2 linked regions of the Homo sapiens genome follow. Each later gene encodes a partner of the first gene's protein in a complex. Each region holds a gene or a part of one and is shown in the gene's direction. Other genes may lie near its edges. The genes, in order: RILPL2 and RAB8A.

Region 1 (7,312 bases):
TGGGATCTCACTTTGTTGCCTAGGCTGGTCTGGAACTCCTGGCCTCAAATAATCATCAGGCGTAAGCCTCCCAATGTGCTGTGGGATTACAGGCATGAGCCACCAGGCCCCTCAAAATTAACATCTCTTGACCGGGCACAGTGGCTCACGTGCAGCCAATCTCCAGAACTTTCTGATCTTGCAAAACTGAAACTCTATCCCCATTAAACGACAACTCTCCATTCTCCATCACCAGGTTGGCCAGGCTGGTCTCGAACTCCTGACCTCAAGTGATCTGCCCACCTCCATCTCCCAAAGTGTTGGGATTACAGGCGTGAGCCACGGCACCTGGCTCCATTTTTACTTTTTGTAGAGATTGTTCTCACTGTATTGCCCAGACTGTTCTCCAACTCCTGGCCACTGTGATGGCCCTTAGATGCACTTTGAGTTAATTTTTTGTATATGGTGAACTCCATTGGTTGAAAAGACTGTCCTTGCCCCATTGAATGGTCTTGGCTCCCTTATTGAAAATCATTTGCCAATATATGCAACAATTTATTTACGAGCTATTTTATTTTTCATTCTTTGTTATGGCTGAATACTATTCTATTGGATGGGCATACCCTCTTTTATGTATGGCAGGCCTAATATTTCATCTCAGTATTTAACCACTAGATGTTGTCACTCTGTGATTTGTGGACTTCTAGGCCCTTGCCCAGGAGCTTCGTTTTGATTATTACAACATTCCTGGCGGGGCACAGTGGCTTATTCCTGTAATCCTCGCACTTTGGGAGGCCAAAGTGGGAGGATTACTTGAGGCCAGGATTTTGAGACCAGCCAGGGCGACAGAACGAGGCCTTGTCTCTTAAAAAAAAAAAAGAAAGAAAGGCAGGGTGCGGTGGCTCATGCCTGTAATCCCAGCACTTTGGGAGGCCAAGGCAGGCGGATCACGGGGTCAGGAGATCGAGACCATCCTGGCTAACATGGTGAAACCCTGTCTCTACTAAAACATACAAAAAATTAGCCGGGCGTGGTGGCGGGCGCCTGTAGTCCCAGCTACTTCGGAGGCTGAGGCAGGAGAATGGCATGAACCCGGGAGGCGGAGCTTGCAGTGAGCCGAGATTGCACCACTGCACTCCAGCCTGGGCAACAGAGCAAGACTCTGTCTCAAAAAAAAAAAAAAAAAAAAAAAAATTAGCCAGGTATGGTGGCAAGCACCTGTAGGCCCAGCTACTCAGGAGGCTGAGGTGGGAGGATCACTTAAGCCCAGGAGTTCAAGGCTGCAGTGAGCTGTGATCATGCCACTGCACTCCAGCTGGGGTGACAGAGCAAAGCCTCATCTCTTAAGAAAAAATAGGCTGGGCTCATGCCTGTAATCCCAGCACTTTGGGAGGGAGAGGCGGGCAGATCACCTGAGGTCAGGAGTTGGAGACCATCCTGGCCAACAGGGTGAAACCCTGTCTCTACTAAAAATACAAAACTTAGCTGGGTGTGGTGGTGGGCGCCTATAATCCCAGCTACTTGCAAGGCTGAGGCAGGAGAATCGCTTGAACCCAGGAGGCAGAGGTTGCAATGAGCAGAGATCATGCCACTGCACTCCAGCCTGGGCTACAAGAGCAAAACTCCATCTCAAAAAAAAAAAAAAAGAAGAAGAAGAAAGGCTAAGCATGGTGGCTCATGCCTGTAATCCCAGCACTTTGGGAGGCTGAGGCAGGTGGATCATCCTGAGGTCAGGAGTTGGAGACCAGCCTGGGCAACATGGTAAAATCCCGTCTCTACTAAAAATACAAAAAATTAGCCATGCATGGTGGCGCGTGCCTGTAATCCCAGCTACTCGGGGTGGGGCTGCTGAGGCAGGAGAATCGCTTGAACCTGGAAGGCAGAGGTTGCAGTGAGCCGAGATCGTGTCACTGCACTCCAACCTAGGCAACAGAGTGAGGCTTTTTTATTTATTTTATTTTTTTATTATTTATTATTTATTTATTTATTTATTTTTATTTATTTTTTTTGAGACCGAGTCTTGCTCTGTTGCCCAGGCTGGAGTGCAGTGGCGCGATCTCGGCTCACTGCAAGCTCTGTCCCCGGGTTCACGCCATTCTCCTGCCTCAGCCTCCCGAGTAGCTGGGACTACAGGCGCCCGCCACTACACCCGGCTAATTTTTTTTGTATTTTTAGTAGAGACAGGGTTTCACCGTGTTAGCCAGGATGGTCTCGGTCTCCTGACCTCGTGATCCGCCCATCTCGGCCTGACTTTTTTATTTTATAAAAGTAAAATAGGCCAGGCAGGGTGGCTTACGCCCGTAATCCTAGCACTTTGGGAGGCCCAGGTGGGAGGATTGCCCGAGCTCAGGAGTTCGCGACCAGCCTGGGCAGCACAGTGAAACCCCATCTCTACTAAAATACAAAAAATTAGCCAGGCGGGGCGGCATGCGCCTGTGGTCCCAGCTACTGGGGAGGCTGAGGTAGAAGAATTGCTTTAACCAGGGAGGCGGAGGTTGCGGTGAGCCGAGATCATGCCACTGAGCTCCAGCCTGGGCAACAGAGCAAGATTCTGTCTCTAAATAAATAAATAAACAAATAAATAAAATAAAATAAAATAAAATAAAAAGAAACGACCCTCTGAAAATAGTGTGTTTTGTTAATTTGCTTTGCTTTTGTTGGTTGGTTTAATCTATGTACATTCTCCATTGAGATTCTAGTACCTCAGTGTGGAGAAAATGGATACACCTATCACAAGGAAAGCTGCCAATACATTCCTGGGAAAGACAAGCCCCGTTGCTGAGCTTTCTGCCTGAGACTATCACAAACCTCCAGTGAAACCTAAAATAACTTGAGATTTGTTGTGCCTTTTTTTTTGAGACATGATCTTACTCTGTCACCATGGTCCCACTCTGTCACAGGCACCACTCTGTGGTGAGATCTTGGCTCACTGCAGCCTCAACATCCCGGGCTCAAGTGGTCCTCCCACCTCAGCCTCCCGAGTACCTGCCACTACAGGCATGAACCACTGTGTCCAGCTACTTTTGTTTACTTTTTGTAGAGACAGGGTCTCACTATGATGCCCAAGCTAGTCTCAAATTCCTGGGCTCAAGCAATCCTCCTGCGTCAGCCTCCTGAAGTGTTGAGATTAAGGCATGAGCCACAGCGAATGACTCAAGTTTCTACGCCACTCTGCTAATATTCTCAGTAATATGGATTCCGCATATGTGTCGAATGCTTTGTGATTTTCAGACAGGGGTTTCTCTCTTGTTAATTACTCCTCCTTCTCTCACCCAAGTAGCAAGGTGTCTCCAACACCAGCAATTCCTCCCTAGCGCTGTGGAAGAAAGAATGAAGGGGCCGGGCGCGGTGGCTCACGCCTGTAATCCCAGCACTTTGGGAGGCCGAGGCAGGTGGATCACGAGGTCAGGAGATCGAGACCATCCTGGCGAACATGGTGAAACCCCGTCTCTACTAAAAATACAAAAAAATTAGCCGGGCGTGGTGGCGCGTGCCTGTAGTCCCAGCTACTCGGGAGGCTGAGGCAGGAGAATGGCGTGAACCTGGGAGGCGGAGCTTGCAGCAAGCCGAGATCGCGCCACTGCACTCCAGCCTGGGCGACACAGGGAGACTCCGTCTCAAAAAAAAAAAGAAAGAAAGAAAGAAAGAAAGAATGAAGGATTGCAGTCACGTATGTGAGTGCTTCCTAAGTGCTTGAGGTGTCGCACACATGATCTCATAAGCTCATGTTCCTCGCAGCAACCCTGCCACCTGGGTCCCGCTATTGTCCCCATTTTACAGAGGAGGAGACTGAGGCTCGGAGACGTTAAGTAACTTGCCAAGGTGACAGCGCTGGTTACGTGGAGGAGCCGAGGACCCAGCGAAGTGAGCAGGGCAGACATTCTCCATTTTATTGAGAGTCACAGCGAAGTCGGACGCCCCAGGCCCTAGTGACAATTTGCCTGGGAGTTTTCCAGATCCTCAAGCCTCGGGGACTCTGTCGCGCTGCCCCCAGCAGCTGCTTTCTGTTTGGCCGCAGGCTCCAGAAAACACCCTCAAAGAGACACCCGGATCTTCCATCACCTACGATGCAAATTCTACGGCTGGAAAGCACGAGGGTGGAAAGGAAAAAGTTGCGTTCTTTTTACCCCGCTCTGGATTGCACGGTGGAAACTCCGTCTCCACGGAAACGCACCTCCTGGCAGCGGTCGCCAGGGGCGGGGCTCAGGGCGGCTCCTCCCCGGGGCTGCAACTGTTCCCAGGCTGGGGCGATTGCCGTCACCCCTGAACTTCCCCGTTCCTCTTCTCGGCTGCCTCCTTTTCCGTTGTCCCTTCGCGCCCCAAACCACATCCTGGAGCGCACTCTCCAGCGTGGCTGGCAGCGGGGACGGTGCGCCGGGGCGCAGGCCCAAGAGTCGCGTGCGCGGCCCCTTGCACCATCCCCCCGGGCCCACCCCCGGGCCGCGCTGATTGGGCAGGTAGGGACTCTGCCCAGCGGAAAGTTTTGGGTGCCGGGAGGAAGTCTAACCTTTGGGAGACTCCAAGACAGCAGCTCCGAGGTCGGCGGGGGTCTGGGTGGCCATGGAGGAGCCCCCTGTGCGAGAAGAGGAAGAGGAGGAGGGAGAGGAGGACGAGGAGAGGGACGAGGTTGGGCCCGAGGGGGCGCTGGGCAAGAGCCCCTTCCAGCTGACCGCCGAGGACGTGTATGACATCTCCTACCTGTTGGGCCGCGAGCTTATGGCCCTGGGCAGCGACCCCCGGGTGACGCAGCTGCAGTTCAAAGTCGTCCGCGTCCTGGAGATGCTGGAGGCGCTGGTGAATGAGGGCAGCCTGGCGCTGGAGGAGCTGAAGATGGAGAGGGACCACCTCAGGAAGGAGGTGGAGGGGCTGCGGAGACAGAGCCCTCCGGCCAGCGGGGAGGTGAGTGTGGGAGCGAGGGTTCCGGGCCCACGGCGCCTGCGGGGCGTAGGAGGGCACCTACTGGCAGGGAGACGCCTTCCTTTTCTTTTCTCTTCTCTTTTCTCTTTTTTCTTTTTTTAAGAGATGGGATCTCGCTGTGTTGCCCAGGCTGGTCTCAAACTCCTGGCTCCAAGTGATCCCCCAGCCTCAGCCTCCTAGAGTGCTGGGTTTACAGGTGTGAGCCACCCTGCCTGGCCAGAATCTGTATTTCTAACGAGTTCGCAGTTAATGCTGATGCTATTGGCCCAGGGTCCACAGTTTGAGAACCTTTGACCTAGAGCAAGAAACACTTTTTTTTTCTTTTGACACAGGGTCCTGCTCTATCTCCCAGGCTAGAGTGCAGTGGTGCAAACACGGCTCACTACAGCCTTGGCCTCCTAGGCTCAAGCAATTCTCCTGCCTTGCCCTTCCAAGTAGCTGGGAGTACAGGCATGTGCCACCATGCCTGGCTAACTTTTTTGATGTTTTGTAGAGATGGGGGTCTCACCGTTACCCAGGCTGGTCTCAAACTCCTAAGCTCAAGGAATCCTCCCACCTTGGCCTCCCAAAGTGCTGGGCTTGTGGATGTGAGCCACCACACTTGGACAAGAAACACATTTTACCTAAAGAGAAATTAGTGCATATGACCACAAAAAGACATAGACAAGAAGATTCAGAGCAGCTTTAGTCTCAGCTGCCAAACTGGAAACACTCTAAATGCAACCCAATTGAGTTTTGAAATTGTGATATATGGAATACTATGCAACAGAGAAAAAGAACGGGGTGCTGATACACACAGCAGTGTGAATGAATCTCACAGATGTAACATTGAGAGAAAGAAGCCAGGCACTAAAGAGAAACTACTGTAGATTTTTTTTTTTTTTGAGTCAGAATCTTGCTCTGTTGCTCAGACTGTAGTGCAGTGGCGTGACCTCGACTCACTGCAACCTCCACCTCCTGGATTCAAGCGATTCTCCTGCCTCAGCCTCCTGAGCAGCTGGGATTGCAAGCGTGTGCCACCACGCGTGGCTATTTTTTTTTTTTCTTTTTTGGTAGAGACGGGGTTTCACCATGTTGGCCAGGCTGGTCTCAAACTCCTGGCCTCAAGTGACCCACCCACCTCAGCCTTCCAAAGTGCTGGGATTACAGGCCTGAGCCACAGCACCCAGCCCTACTGTACATTTAAATAAAATTCATGAACAGGCAAAATAATTTATAGTTATAGAAGGCAAACTGGTGGTGGGGGGAAAAGAAGGGAAATTGATAGAGAGCTAGAAGTGTCCCATATCTTAATCAGGGTATGGATATAGGGATCTACACATATGTTAAAAATCATCTGGCTGGGTGCTGTGACTCACGCCTGTAATCCCAGCACTTTGGGAGGCCAAGGCGGGCAGATCACAAGGTCAGGAATTTGAGACCAGCCTGGCCAACATGGTGAAACTCTATCTCTACTAAAACTACAGAAAAAAATTAGCCGGGCGTGGTGGCGGGTGCCTGTAATCCCAGCTACTCGGGAGGCTGAGGCCGGAGAATTGCTTGAAACCGGAAGGCAGAGGTTGCAGTGAGCCGAGATCGCGCCACTGCACTCCAGGTTGGGTGACAGAGCGAGATTTTGTCTCAAAAAAAAAAAAAAAGTCTTTTTTGCGGGGACAGCTTTCTCTGTCATCCAGGCTGGAATACCATGGTGTGATCACAGCTCACTGAGGCCTCAAACTCCTGGGCTCAAGCAGTCCTCCCACTTCAGCCTCTCCAGTAGCTAGGACTACAGGCACACACCAACCACCTGGCTAATTTTTGTATTTTTGTAGAGATGGGGGTCTCACCATGTTGCCCAGGCTGGTCTCGAACTCCTGGGCTTAAGTGATACGCCCACCTCAGCCTCCCAAAGTGCTGGGATTACAGGCCTGAGCCACCATGCCCAGCCTAGTTTTTAAAATTCTTGTCGAAACTCATTAATTTTATGACCTACTAGCAGGTCTCCAGCCACAGTTAAAAAAGAAAAACAAAAAAGCTGCTGTAAGTGGACGATGTCTTTTTTAATCCTCAGACTATTATTGTTTTACAAAACTGAGGCACAGAACAGTTAAGTAATTTACCTAAGGACTTCACGGCAAGTTAAGAGGTGAAGTCAGGATCTTAATTCAGAGATGCTAGTCCTAAATACTCCATCCTAAAATACAGACATTTGACCTTACTTGTACTAACATTTGATGAGTGACTGCAGTGACTGATGCTAGGCTCTGGGGCTATGGAGATAACGTAGACAAGGTCCCTGCCCTCAAGAAGCTCACATCTAGTGGGAGAGGTCAGACACACAGTCCTAGAACCAGAATACAAGTATACAAACCAGGCCAGGCGCGGTGGCTCACACCTGTAATCCCAACACTTTGGGAGGTCGAGGCAGGCAGATCGC
Region 2 (6,122 bases), on another chromosome or scaffold:
CTCTCCTCTCCAGAACCTCCCACATCATGGGGATGTATGTTGGGATCACGCCTCCCGCCATCTCTGTATGTCCCCTCCTCAAGGCTGTGACAGCAGCTCAACCCTTGGCTGTGCTGGGAGATGAACCTGCTCCCGCTCCCAGCCCTGCCAGGCAAGGACTCCGAGTGAAGCTTGTTTGGCCACAGAGCTGCTTGCCTTTTTCCCTGACCATCAGAAGGGAGGCCAGAGCTGACAGAACCTAGGAGTCAGAGACAAAGAACTGGGCACTCCTAGATCCTTCTGGATTGGTCGGTTAACTGCTGGGTTCCTTTGGACAAGTCACTTGGCCTCTCTGAGCCTCAGTTTCCTCTCTGGCCAACTGAGTGTCGCCCCATCTCACAGGGCTTAGGGGAGGTGGCACATGCGTAAAGTCCCGTCAATGCTAAGGTGCTCTGCGGAAGTGAGAGTTGATGTCAGAGAGTAAGGGTGGGTGGGAGGCAGAGGGAGCCGGGGAAGGATGAGCTGGGGCCGGACAGGCCAGATGAACCCACTGCCAGAGGCGGGCATCAAAGGGCCAAATGGGAGGCCCACGCCTGGGAAGCTGTCTCACCACACCCGCTGTACACGGGCGGCTGAGGACTCAGGGTCCTGCCATCCCAAGGACTCACAATGTGCTTATTCCACAGGCATTTTTCACTCTCGCCAGAGATATCAAAGCAAAAATGGACAAAAAATTGGTGAGTGTGTGTCCTTCCGAGATCCCCGGGTGGATCTCTGGGATCCAGCCATCGTCGTTAGCAGCAGTGATATGACGTGCCCTAGATCCTGCTTTTTAGGGCCCAGCCAGACCCCATGGGACATTGCTGGGAAAGGGGGAAGAGTTTGCAGGTGTGGCTGGGGCATCAGCATCAGGCAGTGCCAGCCTGGGGACGCTGCCCAAGCAGACAAGGCCGTGCCCGGTGAATCCCCAGGCTAGCAGGGAGCACACGGCCTTTTCCATTCCACTCAAGGGCCAGAAAGACAACATGGTGTGCAAGGACAGAGAGCCATGGCTCGGAGAAAAGCTTCCTAGGTCGCTTGGGCAGGGCCAGGGCTGGTGTCTGATAACTGCTGGCTCATCGTCTTGACAAGCATGGCAGATCAAGAACCTGCCCCCGCTCCACCCCAGCCCCAGATGCTACAAGTTGTGACAGCTCTGCAACCTTCATTGTGTCCCAGGGTTCTCTGAGGCCTCCAGGGAAGTCTGCATGAATCCCTACCCATCTACCCTCTCATTCGTTTCTTGCTTTTTTTTTTTTACCACGTTAGCGATTTCCTAGTCCGCTGCGCTCAGTATCAATGGTGCTTTCTTGATGGAATCAAACACTTCCCTGTACTTTGGGGGCATTTAGTGCCTAAACACCGTAGTGACCCTTCCTCCCTCGCCCTGGTTCCAGCAACTGCCCTTTCCCGGCCATGTTACATTGGTTGTCCAATCGAGGAGCACACGGCGCTCTATTTGTGGGTTAAGTCTGGTCACTTGAGAATGCACATAAAATACAAAATGCCGTTCAAGTTTTACATCTGATGTAAGCAAATCTGTTTTGTAATTCTAAGATGCGGTGTGTTGAACAGTGAGGCATGTGATTGATTTAATAGCAGCTCTTTGGCCATTAAATTAAAATGGGAAACAGTTCATGGAAACCAGTGCACTGACCAACAATAATTTGGGATTTTCTTGCAATTTTTTTTCTTCAGTATAATGGTCAAGGTCTGATTCTTTTTTCTTTTAGTTTTCTTATTAGTTAAAAAAGAGATTTTTTTTTTAGAGTCTCACTTTGCCACCTAGGCTGGAGTGCAGTGGCACCATCACAGCTCACTGCAGCCTTCAACTCCTGGGCTCAAGCAATCCTCCCACCTCCGCCTCCCAAGTAGCTGGGGCTATAAGCACACACCACCATGCCTGGCTAATTTTTTTTCTTTTTCTTTTTTTTTGAGAAGGAGTCTCGCTCTGTTGCCCAGGCTAGAGTGCAATGGTGCAATCCCTGCTCACTGCAACCTCTGCCTCCCAGGTTCAAGCGGTTCTTCTGACTCAACCTCCCGAGTACTTGGGATTACAGGCACATGTCACCACGCCCAGCTAATTTTTGTATTTTTAGTAGAGACGAGGCTTCACCATGTTGGTCAGGCTGGTCTTGAACTCCTGACCTCAGGTGATCCACCTGCCTCGGCCTCCCAAAGTGTTGGGATTACAGGTGTGGGCCACCCCGCCTGGCCATTTTTTCTTTTTTAAGAGGCAGGATCTCACTTGTTACCCAGGCTGGACTCAAACTCCTGGGCTCAAGCAGTTCTTCTGCCTCAGCCTCCCAAAGTGCTGGGAAGGGTATGATGGGGTGGGCAGATAAGTGAGAGAGTGGTTGGAAGGGGTGGTATATAGCAGATGGAAAATAGATCTGTTTCTGAAAAACGAATTATCAGTTGTAAGAGAATTGGATGGATGGGTAGAAGATAATGGATGGATGGTTGGTTGAAAGGGAATAAATCGATGGTTGATTTGTTGGAAGGAGATGGTTGGATAGATAGATGATTGGTTTGTTGGTTGGTTGGAAGGGGATGGATGAATGGTTGGTTGGAAGGAGGTGGTTGCTTGGAAGGGGATGGATGGATGGTTGATTGGTCAGAAGGGGTGGTTAGAAGGAGATGGTTAGTTGGAAGAGGGTGGATGGGGGGAAGGAGATGGATGGGTGGATGGATGGTTGGAAAGGGATGGATGGATGGTTGGTTGGATGAGGTGGTTAGAAGGGGATGGATGGTTGGTTGGTTGGTTGGAAGGGGATGGATGGTTGGAAGAAGATGGATGGTTGGAAAGGGATGGATGAGTGGATGGTTCTTGGTTGGAAGGGATGGATGGTTGGTTGATTGGTTTGTTGGTTGGAAGCAGGTGGATAGACGGATGGAAGGGAATGGGTGAGTGGATGGATGGATGGTTGAAAGGGTATAGATGGATGGTTGGTTGGTTGGTTGGTTGGTTGGTTGGTTGGTTGGTTGGTTGGATGGTTGGAAGGGGACAGCTGGACGGACTGGCAGATGATGGATGGATGGTTTGATGGCTGATTGGTTGGTTGGATGGCTGGAATGGTAATGGATGGATGACCTGGCAGATGATGGATGGATGGTTGGATGGCTCGTTGGTTAGTTGGTTGGTTTGGCTGGTTTGATTGGTTTGGTTGTTTGGTTGGTTGGTTGGTTGGTTGGTTGGATGGTTGGATGGATGGTTAGGTGGATGGTTAGGTGGATGGCTGGTTGATTGTGAGACGTAGTGCTGATTCTCAGTGATAACCTCAGAAAACCTCTTGTGATTTCAGGAAGGCAACAGCCCCCAGGGGAGCAACCAGGGAGTCAAAATCACACCGGACCAGCAGAAGAGGAGCAGCTTTTTCCGATGTGTTCTTCTGTGAGGAACACCGCCTTACTCTGAGCCTCGCTCAGCCCAGCTGACTGTGCCTGTTCTGAGTGAGCCCCTCACTCAGCCGGGGCCCTCCCACCTCCAACGCCCCGCCCACGCCGCGGCCACCGGGCCCACGGCCACCAGAATGCAATTGAGAAATCGTTTATTTTAGTAACTGTCTGATCTTTTTCAACTTTGGAGATGGAATAAGTTAAAAATTTGCTATTTTTCCTGTAACATCTGCTGAACGGGCCCACCCACACGTTGTATATTCAGAGAGAGAGAGGGAGTCAAGGTGTGACCGTCGACCACAGCCAGTGTCAGGCCTCTGCCTCTGGGCCTTTGCTTTGTGGCCTCACTGCAACACAAAGCTCCACCAGGAGGCTGGTTCACGTCCCCTACCACGGAAGCGAGGTCCCAGAAGGCCAGCGGTGGTTCCAGGAGCAACAGCTCCCAAACCCTGAGCAAGGCAACCGATCGCCAGGACCAGGAAGCATCACCCAGGAGATTTGGCGCCCACTTCCACCTCTTCTCTCAGTTTTGGACAAGTGACAAACCATTTTGCCCCCTCACTCTTCTTTTTTAACTGTTAAACCAAAGGAAAGCACAAATGAAGGAAATCCTGTGTAAAGCATTGAGAAGGAAAGAAGCCTGGAGCAGCCTCTCCTGTCCACAGCCAGGGGTTAGGTCTGCAGGCCCGTCTGCGGTCCCCATCGAGCATCAAGGGGACGCTGTGTGTGCTGCAAGTGACCCCGAAAACAACCACAGCCGTCACATGGTCCTCCTGAAGTTGGGGCACCCTCCTCTCAGCACCAAAATGGCCCCCACTCCTTCGTGTCCTCCCGCTATCTCCAAATCGGACGTTCTTTCTAGCTGAGATTTTTATTTTTCCACATCTGTAGTGCCATGAAGCGATTCTGTCTTTGACTTCCAATGGCAAACCTGGGTGATCGGGAACAAGCACGTTGTACCCTTGGCTGGACATGGCCAAGACACAAGGCATTCCACGGCGGCAAGCTGACCGCACAGCAGTCTGGCTTGATTTTCAGCCGTCATCATTGGGTTCTGTTTTGACAGCTCTGCTGTCCCATAGGGACTGCGACTGGGACCAGGTCAACCACGCCAGGGGGGTGTCACCAGCCTTTTCTTTTTTTCTTTCTTTTTTTTTTTTTCCTCCTTAAGCTGCTGTCAATCCAAACCATTGGCATCATCGTTTCTTTTGAATTAAAACCAACATATCAGCAATAGTCTGCTCTCCCCGGGAATCTCTAACATGCTCTGTTTACATCGATAAATGCACTTAAGGAAAACAAACAAATTAAAGCTCATCTTAAAGTCCAAGGATTTTTATGTCCACATTTTCCCTGTAGGCCACACGGACATGGCCAGGTGCTGGGGGTGGGTCTGGACAAGATGGTAGAGCCCATGGATTACCCCATCGAGCGGCCACCTCAGAGGAGATGCCACCCATCATCAAAAGACTAAATTGGGAAAAGAAGCCTCCTGGCTTGGTGCAGTGGCTCACACCTGTAATCCCAGCACTCTGGGAGGCCAAGGCGGGCTGATCACTTGAGCTCAGGTGTTCGAGACCAGCCTGGCCAACATGGTGAGCCTGCGTCACCTGGCTTCTGGCACACAGCTCGGCCACTGTGTCCCTCCTGCCTCCCTGGCAGGTCCTTCTAGGGGCCCTCTCCTGGCTGGCTTTCCAGGGCATTCCTTCCACTCTATCCAGGGTCCTTCCCAAGACCACACCCAGGTCCAGTCATTCCCTAGGACTTGGCAGAGAGCTGTACTCACAGCCAAGATCACAGCAAAATCAGCAAAGGGAAAAGGCATGCAGAGTGAAGTCCAGAGGCAACCAGACAGAAGCATCCAGAATCCTCTCACAGTGGGGTCACACACCCCATGCTTAACTCCCCCAACAATGAGTTGTAACAACAGGTGTGTAATGTGTCTTTTGTGAAAGCTAGTTGGCAGTTCTGTACCCAGGTGTTTATGGAGCCAGTCACATAGGAACCCTCTACCTGGCACTTATCAGGATTCCAGACTCCTACAAAGAAAGCAGGGGTTTAGCATAAACCGCATCACTTGTACAGAAAGTGTATGAGCCACGCATGTAGGGAAGTTTTAATATCCGTAGGGAACTTTACCAACTGCAGGCCCACCTTGCCAGCAGGCCTTTCTCAGGAAGCAGCCTCAGATCTATTCATTCTTTTCTGCACACACTATGCTTTTAGATAGGCCAGTGGCTTTCAAGCTGCAAATCCAGGCCAGACCCAGGTCGGTTTCACCTGCCACTCTCTATTCCAATTTGAATGTCTCATCGGCACCGTAAGCATAACACAGCCCTGACCCTGGACTCCATCCCTGCCTTCCCCATCGTGCCCACAGCTGACCCCTCCCGAGTTGTAGCCACGACCACCTGGACCTCTGTGACCACTTCCTCATGGGTTTCAGGTCCTCACCTCTGTGTTTCAAACTATTTTCAGAGTGTCCTTACGAAACTGAAATCAGTGTCACCTCCTTGCTTAAAGCTCTCCCCAGGGGCTGGGGTGTGTGGCTTATGCCTATAATCCCAGTGCCTTGAGAGGCAGAGGCAGGGGAATAGCTTGAGGCCAGTTCAAGTTAAAGACCATCCTGGACAACATAGTGAGACCCCATCTCTAAAAAAAAAAAAAAAAAAGTACAAAAATTGGCCGGGTGCAGTGGCGCATGC

Evidence for each region.
Region 2: the proteins of RILPL2 (region 1) and RAB8A are in contact, whole or in part, in a crystal structure (PDB 6SQ2), measured with the Homo sapiens proteins. Residues at the interface, in NP_659495.1 of Homo sapiens: Leu135, Leu138, Arg139, Leu142, Gln143, Arg145, Asn146, Lys149, Ser150, Leu153, Glu157; in NP_005361.2 of Homo sapiens: Ile41, Gly42, Ile43, Asp44, Phe45, Lys46, Ile47, Lys58, Trp62, Phe70, Ile73, Tyr77.

What each region holds. Positions count from the first base shown.
Region 1 is NC_000012.12:123,433,648-123,440,959, reverse strand, and holds the start of RILPL2 (RILP-like protein 2), read left to right. Parts: upstream 1-4,275; 5' UTR 4,276-4,539; coding exon 4,540-4,878; intron 4,879-7,312. UniProt on the Homo sapiens protein: Involved in cell shape and neuronal morphogenesis, positively regulating the establishment and maintenance of dendritic spines. Plays a role in cellular protein transport, including protein transport away from primary cilia.
Region 2 is NC_000019.10:16,128,889-16,135,010, forward strand, and holds the end of RAB8A (ras-related protein Rab-8A), read left to right. Parts: intron 1-665; coding exon 666-716; intron 717-3,323; coding exon 3,324-3,416; 3' UTR 3,417-5,346; downstream 5,347-6,122. UniProt on the Homo sapiens protein: The small GTPases Rab are key regulators of intracellular membrane trafficking, from the formation of transport vesicles to their fusion with membranes.